Linked DNA regions of Homo sapiens: region 2 is linked to region 1. A link means that fine-mapping ties the variant in region 1 to the expression of a gene that starts in the linked region. Tissue or cell type: cerebellar hemisphere. Region 1 holds a variant in brackets; the other region holds the start of a gene. All regions are shown on one strand. Distances are from middle to middle. Region 1 has its middle 31 kb from the start of SYCE1L. Region 2 holds the start of SYCE1L (synaptonemal complex central element protein 1 like).

Region 1 (5,382 bases):
TGTGCCAACTTGTCCCTGCTCAGGGCATTTTATAAAACTATAATAAACTCAGTTTGAGTTGAATATTAACAAAATAAAGCCCATTCAGATGGAGGAAGGGGCTAGTAGGATAGAGGTTTTGAAGTGTAGATTACGAGAGCTAAGGCTGAAGGATTTAAGAATATTTATTCTGAAGAAGAGATACCTGGGTACTAAATATCATCTTTGTATATCTGAGCATATATCATGGGATAAAGGAACCAGAGAGGCAAATGAGGACTTGCTAACAGATACCACTGTCCAGCAGTAGAATCAGCAGCCACGTTGGATGGGGCAAGCTCCATAACCAGAGGCAATCCAACAGGGAAAGCAGCAGGTAACGAGCGTGCCAGAGCCAGTATGGATGATGGTTGGGATGTTAAGGTAAAGGCCTGATTGAAGTTCATGTGTGTGTTGGGCGGGGGGGAGTGTAGAAAGGGAATTCATATATGGAAAGTACCTGCTGTGTTACAGACTCTTACTAACACTTTGAGTCATCCTCTTGCCCATGAGGGGGCTGAGGCTCTGAGAAGTTTTGCAGCCTTCTGTAGTTCTCATAGCTAATACTGCATTTAAACTCAAGTCTATTGATCTTCACAACCATGCCACGCTTTATTCTGAACTCTGTTCCCTTCCAGCTCTGCATTGTTGTTGCTTCCTCATGGGTTGTAACCCAGATAGAAGCCACAAAAGTATATTTCATGAATGGGTACTTTTTACGGTCTCTGGCTAAAGTCACCAGCAGCCAGTGTGGGAGAGAGAGCTTGAAGTCCCTGCTACCAAACCCAATGCCAAGTCAAGCCCCCCTGGATACCTGATAGAGAACATCTGTACCGAAATGCTGTCAGTCAGGGTGAATGTTGCACTGCACCACCTGGATCCCACTTTGGGAACAGAGGGCTTATTCCTGCAGCTGCTAGCAGTACTGCTGCTGCTGGAAAGCTGCCCTCAGTGTCAGTCCCCTTCAAGAACCCCCTCAGCAAGGGTCAACTCCATTAAAGTTATGCCTCTTCTTGGGGGAGGCCACATGCAATAACCATTTGGCTTAGAAGTGTAAAAAAGCCCACGGGTCATGAAGGCCTGACCCTCGTGGCTGAACATGGGGTGGCTTGGAATGGCCAACCCATCTTAAAACTCTCCATGAGGGTGGCTAATGCTTCCATTGAAATTTCTCCCTCTGCTCAATCCTGCTTCCTTTCTTTCCCTTTCTTTCTCTTCCATGGGAGTTGATCCCAAGATCAGTCCCTAATCAACATTCAGAATGCTGATCTCCATTTCAGAGTCAGCTCCAGCAGTCAGCTGCAAAATCTCAGCTCAGCATCTTCCCATGTGGCTTGTCTTCCGTTTCAATTGTTCAAATAAATAAGAGGTCTGGCTACTGAACTGTACTCATTCATTTATTCTTTCATTCAACAAATACTTAACCACCAGCAACGTGGCAGTGAGTGCACTAGGCACTACTAGAACTACTGTAATGAGGAAGGATTCTGTTCTAGCCCTCAATGAGCTAACAGGGAAGAAAGACCATCAGCAAATAATTACATAAAGAATGATGTGATGACTTTATGAGAAGGGTTTTGAAGAACTGCAGGGCACTACCAGTGAGATCACAGGAGTCTAGTCTAATTTAGAGAAATCAGTAAGATCCTCTGAACATGGTGACATTTAATCTGAGACCTAAAGACTAAAGGAGGTGGGTATATGGGAGACGGGGTAATTCTAAACAGAATTAACAGCATTAGGCAGAAAGGATATTTGTATATTTGAGAGAAAGAAAAGCCTGATTGGCAACCACACAGTGAAAGAAACAAATGAAAATGAGGCTTGCACAGATACTATAGGGACTTATAAAATTTTTTTGGTACAATTATAAGCATGAAATAGTTTTATGATGTGACTTGGACTGATGTTGTTTCACATTATTTAATTCTACCAAGAATTGTGTGCATTGTTTGCCATTTCCCCACCACCCTTTTTTTTGAAACAGAGTTTTGTTCTTGTTGCCCAGGCTGGAGTGCAGTGGCGTGATCTCGGCTCACTGCACATCCGCCTCCTGGATTCAAGCAATTCTCCTGCTTCAGCCTCCTGAGTAGCTGGGATTACAGGTGCACACCATCACGCCTGGCTAATTTTTGTATTTTTAGTAGAGATGGGGTTTCACCAGGTTGGCCAGACTGGTCTCGAACTCCTGACCTCAGGTAATCACCCTGCCTTGGCCTCCTAAAGTGCTAGGATTACTGGCATGAGCCACCACGCCCAGTCTTTTCCCCCCTTTTTTTTTAATAGATGGGGGAGGAAACCTAATTTCTGAGAGATTCTGTGTTTTGTTCAAGGTCAAAAAACAGCTCAAATAAGTCAAAGGAGGCCCACCTGGATCCAAAATCTATATACCTTCCACTATATCATATGAGAGTCCTCTGACTGTCTTTAGGGGAATGACATTTTCCATTTGAGTCAATGGAAGCTATAGCTTTACAGAGTAATGACCTTTACCTTATACCCTATTTTAATTCCCTTTAAGCCTGAGGGCCCTTGAATAGTTGGTTTCTACAAAAATGAAGCTGAAAAACAATTACCAAAATATACTAACGACCTCCATGCTATAAAATTATTCACGAGCTAGACCACGGCGAGACTTCTCTAACAAATCCACATCATCCATTTCAAATTTTTAAATTAAATTGATGGCTCTTTAGCTCTGATATGTCACTTTTGTTTTCTTTTCTTTGAGACAGAATTTCACTCTTGTTGCTCAGGCTGGAGTGCAGTGGCACAATCTCGGCTCACCGCAACCTCCACCTCCCAGGTTCAAGCAATTCTCCTGCCTCAGCCTCTGGAATAGCTGGGATTACA[G/T]GCTTGTGCCACCATGCATGGCTAATTTTTTTTTTTTTTTTTTTTTTTTTTTTTTAGTAGGGACAGGGTTTCTCCATGGTGGTCAGGCTGGTCTCGAACTCCCGACCTCAGGGGATCTGCCCGCCTCGGCCTCCCAAAGTGCTGGGATTACAGGCGTGAGCCACTGCGCCTGGCCTGATATGTCACTTTTAAAATTCCAAAGGCCCTTTTCCATGAAAGGATCCAGGAATTACTGGCTTCCGATCACCCTTCACAGTCCTTTGTTCATTTTGCTGAACTAGGGTTGCCATTAGAATGGTTCACTGAAGCTCATTCATTCCGGACATTGCCCAGGTGTCCTGCTGTGAAGAAAATTGATATTTTTATTGTGGCTCTTTCAGTTTGCATTGCAAAGGCAAGTATTTTTGAAATTTTGAAATAGAACTTATAATACTGTGTTAAATTCCTATTGCTTATTTCCTCATATCTGCCGGCTGTGTTCTCACGTCCATCTTTGTGTTTTCTGGAGCGCCAATATCCTAGCTCAGATTGGCATTGCCACTTACATGGCTACGGGAGAACTTCATTTCCCACTCTGCCTCTAGCCTTGTTCATTTCCATTTGTCAGTCACATTGTAGTCAGAACTAATTCACTTATAGCTCTTTACTTCTCTGGTTTCCCATGAACTACAGGGTCAAATCCGAAAACTTTATTCCAGAATGCAAGTCCCTCTCTAATGGTCTTATGTGAACCTACCTTTCCAGCCATACATCCCACTACTACCTCTCACCATTCTGGACCCCTCCCTGTCCACCCGCAACTCATGCAAGGCAAGATTTCTTTTCGAATATGACTTTTCTCCCTGCATGGTGTTTACTCTGATTGTATTTTATCTTCAAACACCAGAAGCTATTCATTTTTAAGTGCCCCTTTATCACATAGCCTTCCTTGACCTCTCTGAGAGCAACCTCTGTTTCCTCTGTGTTTCATCATCAAACTACTTATACCATGTCTAGATGAAGTATGATCATTGATGTTATACACCTTCGTGTGCTGGCTGAGAGCTTACATTCTAAGAAATGAGGTTATACCTTATTAATTTTCATATTATCTCAATAATAAGTATAACAAGTTACTGAGTAATTGCTGTAAGAGGAGAACATCTTTGGAGCATCTAACCAACTCACCATGATTTTTAAAAAATCATCTCCCTCTATCAACAGCACTACATGGTGCTATCATTCCCAACAGTCATGTCGTCAAATGTAATTTTGCTCAATTCACTTGCAGGCATCTGAAGATTATGAAATTTAAAAATAAAATGTAATCACTCACGTGCTTAGTGGCAGGCCCTCTGCTTAATGTTATTGCATAAGCATCAGTCATTCGGGTATGGTCTTTTCCCATTGTGTCATTATAGGTCTTATAGACATTAAAAGAACAATAAAAGTGTGTGTGTTTGTGAGCTAAATGACTTCGGAGAGCAAATTAAAACATTTAGATGAGATGGACAAATTTCTTGAAATATGCAAATCCCTTAAACTGATGCAGGAGGAAATAGAAAATCTGAATAGCTCCATACCTAAATCATTATTTGGAAAAAGTTAAAATTAGGCCCATGTCTCACCATCCACCACAAGAACAAGCAAATAAAGGATCTAATGTAATAATATGAAAGCATACAAGTGCTAGATGGAAACACGGGTGAATTTCTCTTTATTCTGATGTAGGAAAAGGCTTTCTGGCTATGACTCAAAACCCAGAGGTGATAACTTTGACTACATAAAAAAATTTGCATGGAAAGAAATACCATAAATGTTCAAAAATATGTTACATATATTATGGATAAAGATTTAATATCTATAATATATAAAAAACTCTTGAAAGAATAAATTTCAAAAATGAGAATTCTTTAAAATATAAACAGCAAGAATCAAGACTGCTTATGCAGAATTATAAATATGTAAAAATAACAGCAAAATAATGAAAAGGAAATAAACTATTTTTTTTTTTTCCAGATGGAGTTTCACTCTTGTCACCCAGGCTGGAGTATGGTGGTGCCATCTTGGCTCACTGTAACCTCTCCCTCCCAGGTTGAAGTGATTCTCCTGCCTCAGCCTCCCGAGTAGCTGGGATTACAGGCACCCGTCACCAAGCCTGGCTAATTTTTTGTGTCTTTAGTAGAGACGGGGCTTCACCATGTTGGGCAAGCTGGTCTCAAACTCCTCACCTCAGGTGATCTGCCCGTCTTAGCCTCCTAGAGTGCTATAGTTATGAAATAATGACAATTGCTACTTTTTTCCTTTTTTCTACTTCTCTGTGTTTTTGAAATACACTAAGTACATCTTTCTTTTATAAGCAAATAGATGTTATTATAATAAAAAATGTTAAAAGACACAAAGAGATACCATTACAGGCTCACTAATGTGTAAAAATATTAATACACATTGTGGGGAGGTTGTAAAATAACCGGAACACTCAAACATCGCTGGTAGAAGCACAAAGTGGTGCAAACACTTTGAAAAACGGGT
Region 2 (5,382 bases), 31 kb before region 1:
TCCTCTGGGCTCCAGCCCTCACTTCCTATGGGTTTGCTAAAGGTCAGCTACTAAGGGAGGCCAGTGAAGGAGGCCTCATCAGAAATGGCACCTGCCATGTAATGCATATTTATTAATTTATTGCGTGACTGCTGTGGATCAGGTATTGTCCTAGGCTAAGAATTTTGTTTTTAAATTTTTTTAACTTTCATTTTCAAATAACTTTAGACTTAGAAGCTGCAAAAACAATATAAAGAGTTTTTATATTTATATTTATAAAGAGTTATAAAGGGCGTGGTGAAAACCACGCCTGGTCAGATGGTGGTTTTCCTAACTCCATCATTCTTTCTACATTTATTGGCTGGGATTTTACTATAAAGAGTAACATGGGGCCGGACGTGATGGCTCACGCCTGTAATCCCAGCACTTTGGGAGGCTGAGGCAGGCTGATCACTTGAGGTCAGGAGTTCGAGACCAGCCTGGCAAACATGGCAAAACCCCGTCTCTACTAAAAATACAAAAATTAGCTGGGCGTGGTGGTGCGCACCTGTAGTCCCAGCTATTCATAAGGCTGAGGCAGGAGAATCGCTTGAACCTGGGAGGTGGAGGTTGCCGTGAGCCAAGATCGCGCCACTGCACTCCAGCCTGGGCGACAGAGTAAGACTCCATTTCAAAAACAAAAAGGAATAACTTTTCCTTCTCCTATTTATTGAATTTTTAATTTTCTATCAATATTGTCTCATGGATTTTTCTTTAATTCAGTGAGCTAAAATCCTTCTCTAGCATTTATTTTGGTGTTCAGATTGCCTCTGATTTAGCCGGTGGGTACCCTGATTTAGCCAGGCTGATCCCTGTGTCTCTGACACGTCCCCTTCACTATGTGAGCACATCTTACTTGACTTTCTCTATTCCAGTCCTCAACTCAGCCATTTTTCCATGGAGCCCTTATACCTTTTAGTAGAGATTGGAATTTTAAAACCAAGATATGGGCCAGACACGGTGCCTCACGCCTATAATCCCAGCACTTTGGGAGGCTGAGTCGGGGTGGGAGTTGGGGGGAGTGGGCGGCGAGTCACAAGGTCAGGAGTTCGAGACCAGCCTGGCCAACAGGGTGGAACCCCATCTCTACTAAAAATACAAAAAATTAGCTGGATGTGGTGGCATGCGCTTGTATCCCAGCTACTCGGGAGGCTGAGGCAGGAGAATCGCTTGAACCTGGCAGGCGGAGGTTGCAGTGAGCCGAGACCGTGCCACTGCACTCCAGCCTGGGTAACAGAGTAAGACTCTACGTCAAAAACAAAAAAACAAAAACAAACAAAATATATGTTAGGAGCAGAATTTTAAACCAAGTGATCAGGGTGGCCTCCCTGAGCAGATGGCATCTGAGTGGAGTAGGGAGGTATTGAGCTACGTGGATATTAGGAGGAAGAGTACACCTGGCAGAGGGAAAGGACTGATATGCTATGAGGTGGAACCAAGCCTGGCTATGTTTGAGGAATAGCAAGGAAAGGGTAGAGTGGCCGGAGCAGAGGGAGTGAAGGGGAGCGCTCTGGGAGGTGGCACAGGAAAGGCGCTAGTGACCTTGTGGGGTCAGGCCTCTCCATGTGGTATGAGGCATAAATTGAGTTCCTCTTTATATTATTCCCTGGCTGTAGATGATGAAAACATAGTTGTAGGAGCTTAGAGCAGGACCTTGTACACAATAGGTTACTGACAGAATATTAAACATTGTTACTGTTTTCCCCAGTTCCCAATGAGCAAACAGGTCTAGAGAGTACCCACACACACAACCAGCATCATCCAGTTGAAGTCACTAGGTCCAGCTGAAATTGCACAATATCAGCTTACCTACCTTAGCCCAGTATCTAGGCAGCACCTGGTAGGAGGTGCTGCCAGGTACATGTTCCAGGTTGCAGGAGGCAGACATGCAGCTGCACTGGGGTAGGCAGGATTGTCCATAGCCAGCTCTGGCCCATCTGACTCTGTCTCCTCCGAAACCCCCAGGTGACCTCCAAATTCGAGCTCTATACCTGCCTCAGCCCTCTGGTGACCAAGGCAGGTGCAATCTTGGTAGTGACCAAACTCCTGCGCTGGGTGAAGAAAGAGGAGGACCGGCTCTTCATTCGTTACCCACCCAAGTACTCCACACCACCAGCCACCTCTACGGACCAAGCTGCCCATAATGGCTTGTTCACTGGACTCTGATAGTTGGAGCTCCCAGACCAGGCAGTGCTGGGAGCAACCACCTTTGTTTTTTACCTTCTGTCTACCCTGGAAATGTGTGTGGGGGTGTGTCTGTGGCCAGTCATTGTCTCCCTAAGCAATGGGGCAAGGTCTGAGGGCCCACCGATGAGAGAGATGGTGGCAGCCGCCAGGCGAGCAGGCTGCTTTCCCTGCCCAGTCATGCACCTCCCCCTCTGGGGAAATCCTTAGGCCTCCCTCTCCCTTCCCTCTGTCTCATCTCCTCCACTTGGATGATGCTCTAGCCTCTGTCAGGGACTGTCCCCTCCAAACTTGCTTCCGTGGTCTGCCTCCTAGTTGAATCTCAGCCCTGAGTGTCCAGATCTGGCCAAGGTGTCTAGGGTGGCCCACGGGGGTGCTGGAATTGGCACTTCAGGGCCAGGCTATGCTTGGGACTGGCCTGAGGGTATTTTAAAGAAAAAAACTACATAAAAGGCCTAAAAGTAAGACCCACAAGGATATTCCTTTGCCCTTCTTGTACTTTTTTCATCTTTACCCTGCCAGAAATGACCCGCCCTCAATGCTGGCTGCTGCTAACATTAATGAGAAGGTGGCCTTCAGTGTCCACCTGTGGAACCCAGGACACAGCACCTGACTGCACACAGTGGCTGAAATCCAGCATTTTTACATAGGAGATGCACTTAGCCTCTAAGCCTCGTTTTACTCATCTGTGAAACAGAGATAAGTAACCCTCTCTCATGAACTCTTTGATGAGGATTTGTAAACGAAAACAGACTCGAACTATTGTGTACCACCACATAGCACATGCACGTCTGTCCCAGACTTTGACAACCTGCACAAGACAAGCAGCCTAAAGCAGGAGAGACCTCCCTAGGGTTTTGTGTGTGTGCACACTACCCTCACTCCCCAACTGGCCATTACCCTAGTTCTGCCCTTGTTTGTGGAGTTACAGCCTCAAGGTTGTAGCATGTGTGCTGGCAATCAGGGCCGCAGTGTGTTCTGCGCCTGCCCAGAGCTGACTCCTGATTTAACCGCTGGCGTAACCGCGGGTTGCACGCATGCGTGCTGAAAAGCCTTTCACCCTCACGTGGTTTCTTTTTTAACCAGTCATCAAGCGAGGCTCGCGCGCAGGCCCCGCGTTGGAAAATGGCGGGGAAGCTGAAACCTCTGAATGTGGAGGCGCCAGAAGCTACTGAGGAGGCTGAAGGTAGTGAGGGCAAGTGGGCTGCACTCCTTTCTCTCCAACCAGGGCAGAAAGGAGGGAGGATTCGTCCCATTACAATAATGAAATAATGATATTCTAATTTTTTTAAATAAAATGTTAAGCCTTTTGTTATTGAAGAAAAACAATTTTTTAACCGTTCAGCACAGTGGAGATAAATTAACAGGCATATTCTTATCACCGAGATTAACTTTTGTCAACTGTAGTGTATACGTTGTTGAAAGTAAACAACATGTAGTTCAGTACGAAAGTCTTCAAACAAAAGTGGGGCGGTGGGGATGTTCTCATAACAATCACCGTGCTGCAGCCACCCCTTATTAACAGTAATTCCCAGTGTCGCCATTTCACACCTAACACATATGACACTTTGATGGACTCTTAAACCTCCTAATCGAACATGGCCTCCCCCACAGCCTCTTTTCTCCAGGGTATTGACTTGAATGACAGGCAAAGGAGGGTGGAGGGGTGTCGGCCTAGACACTATTGGAAATTGTATTCCATCCAAAAGAAAAAAAAATCTCAGGCCGGGCACGGAGGCTCACGCCTGTAATCCCAGCACTTTGGGAGGCCGAGGCGGGCGGATCACGAGGTTAGGAGTTCGAGGCCAGCCTGACCAACATGGTGAAACACCATCTCTACTAAAAAACTATATATACATATACATATGTGTGTATGTGTATTTATATGTATGTATGTATGTGTGTGTATATATATATATATGTATATGTGTATATATATATATATGTGTATATATATATATATATACACACACTAATCAGCCGGGCGCGGTGGTGTGGGCCTGTAATCGCAGCTACTCAGGAAGCTGAGGCAGGAGAATCACTTGAACCCGAGAGGCGGAGGTTGCAGTGAGCCGAGATCATGTCACTGCACTCCAGCCTGGGTGACAGAGTGAGACTCCGTCTCAAAAGAAAAAAAATTCTCCCTTGGCCGGGCTTGGTGGCTTATGCCTGTAATCCCAGCACTTTGGAAGGCCGAGGCGGGTGGGTCACCTGAGGTCAGGAGTTTGAGACCAGCCTGGCCAGCATGGCGAAACCTCGTCTCTACTAAAAATACAAAAATTGTCCGGGTGTGGTGGCGGGCGCCTGTAGTCCCAGCTACTGGGGAGGCTGAGGCAGGGGAATTGCTTGAACCCGGGAGGCAGAGGTTATCGTGAGCTGACATTGCGCCACTGCACTCCAGCGCGGAAGACAGAGTGAGCAAAAAAAAAAAAAAAAAAAGAAAAAACAAAAAGAAAAAAATCTCCCAAGGCAGTCATGCATTTGTATGCCACTAGCATTTTTTTGTTATAGAAATATTCAAAGTGTACCAACGTAGAGAAAATAGCTTTAAACAAAGCCCATGTGTACCTATCAGTATGCTTTAACTGTTGTCACCTTTCTGCCCCACTTTTATCTATCTCGAACACCCCTTTCTGCACACTCTTTAAACCACTGTATTAACAAACACATTAGACTGCATCCTGCCAGACCTACCCATACAGACATCAAAGTAATGATTATTGCTTATTGCCTGACCTAGGATGTGAGCTCCATGAGAACAGAGACTGTTTACCTCTCGCTCCCCTGCACCTAAAACAATGCCTGCTTGGTGTAAAGTAAGTGCTCAGTAATTTTTTAATGTGTGACCAATGAAATAACTTCAAGAGCAGAGAGCTCTTTTAGATTAGAGGCACATACTAAGTGCCAGCATTCAACAAAAGACAGACGGAAATAAGACAGATGCAAATAGATCTCATTTATTAACTGTGTAATGCAGCTGCCACTGCAATTAAAAAAAAAATTTTAGTATCAACCTTTCAAATTCCTCAAAATTAAAGTTATGACTAACTTCACCAGCAAAGGAAAAATTGAAGGATGTATCAAGTTGCCATTTCTAGCCCATCAAATCGGCTTTATAAAGGGAAGCATAGTATCTGGTATTGACGACCTTGTAGAGAAACAGGCCTTTTCCTGCCTCAG

What was found. PIP is the estimated chance that this variant, and not a neighbour inherited with it, causes the effect. A credible set is the group of variants that fine-mapping cannot tell apart.
Region 2: it holds the start of SYCE1L, and the variant in region 1 is the best candidate, but not a certain one, in a credible set for the expression of SYCE1L in cerebellar hemisphere (GTEx, PIP 0.75).

The regions. Positions count from the first base shown.
Region 1 is chr16:77,227,449-77,232,830 of GRCh38, forward strand. No RefSeq gene overlaps it. Among named protein-coding and RNA genes, the nearest start is that of SYCE1L, 31 kb to the left of the region's middle. RefSeq lists an enhancer at 3,223-3,392 and a cis regulatory region at 3,308. The variant G/T (reference allele first, on the strand shown) is at 2,872.
Region 2 is chr16:77,196,125-77,201,506 of GRCh38, forward strand. SYCE1L (synaptonemal complex central element protein 1 like) reads left to right here and starts at 3,284. Exons shown (of 11, transcript NM_001129979.3): 1 at 3,284-3,388. The coding sequence starts at 3,328. It overlaps MON1B (MON1 vesicular trafficking associated B), which reads left to right. Exons shown (of 6, transcript NM_014940.4): 6 at 1,984-5,382. The coding sequence ends at 2,184. RefSeq lists an enhancer at 936-1,105.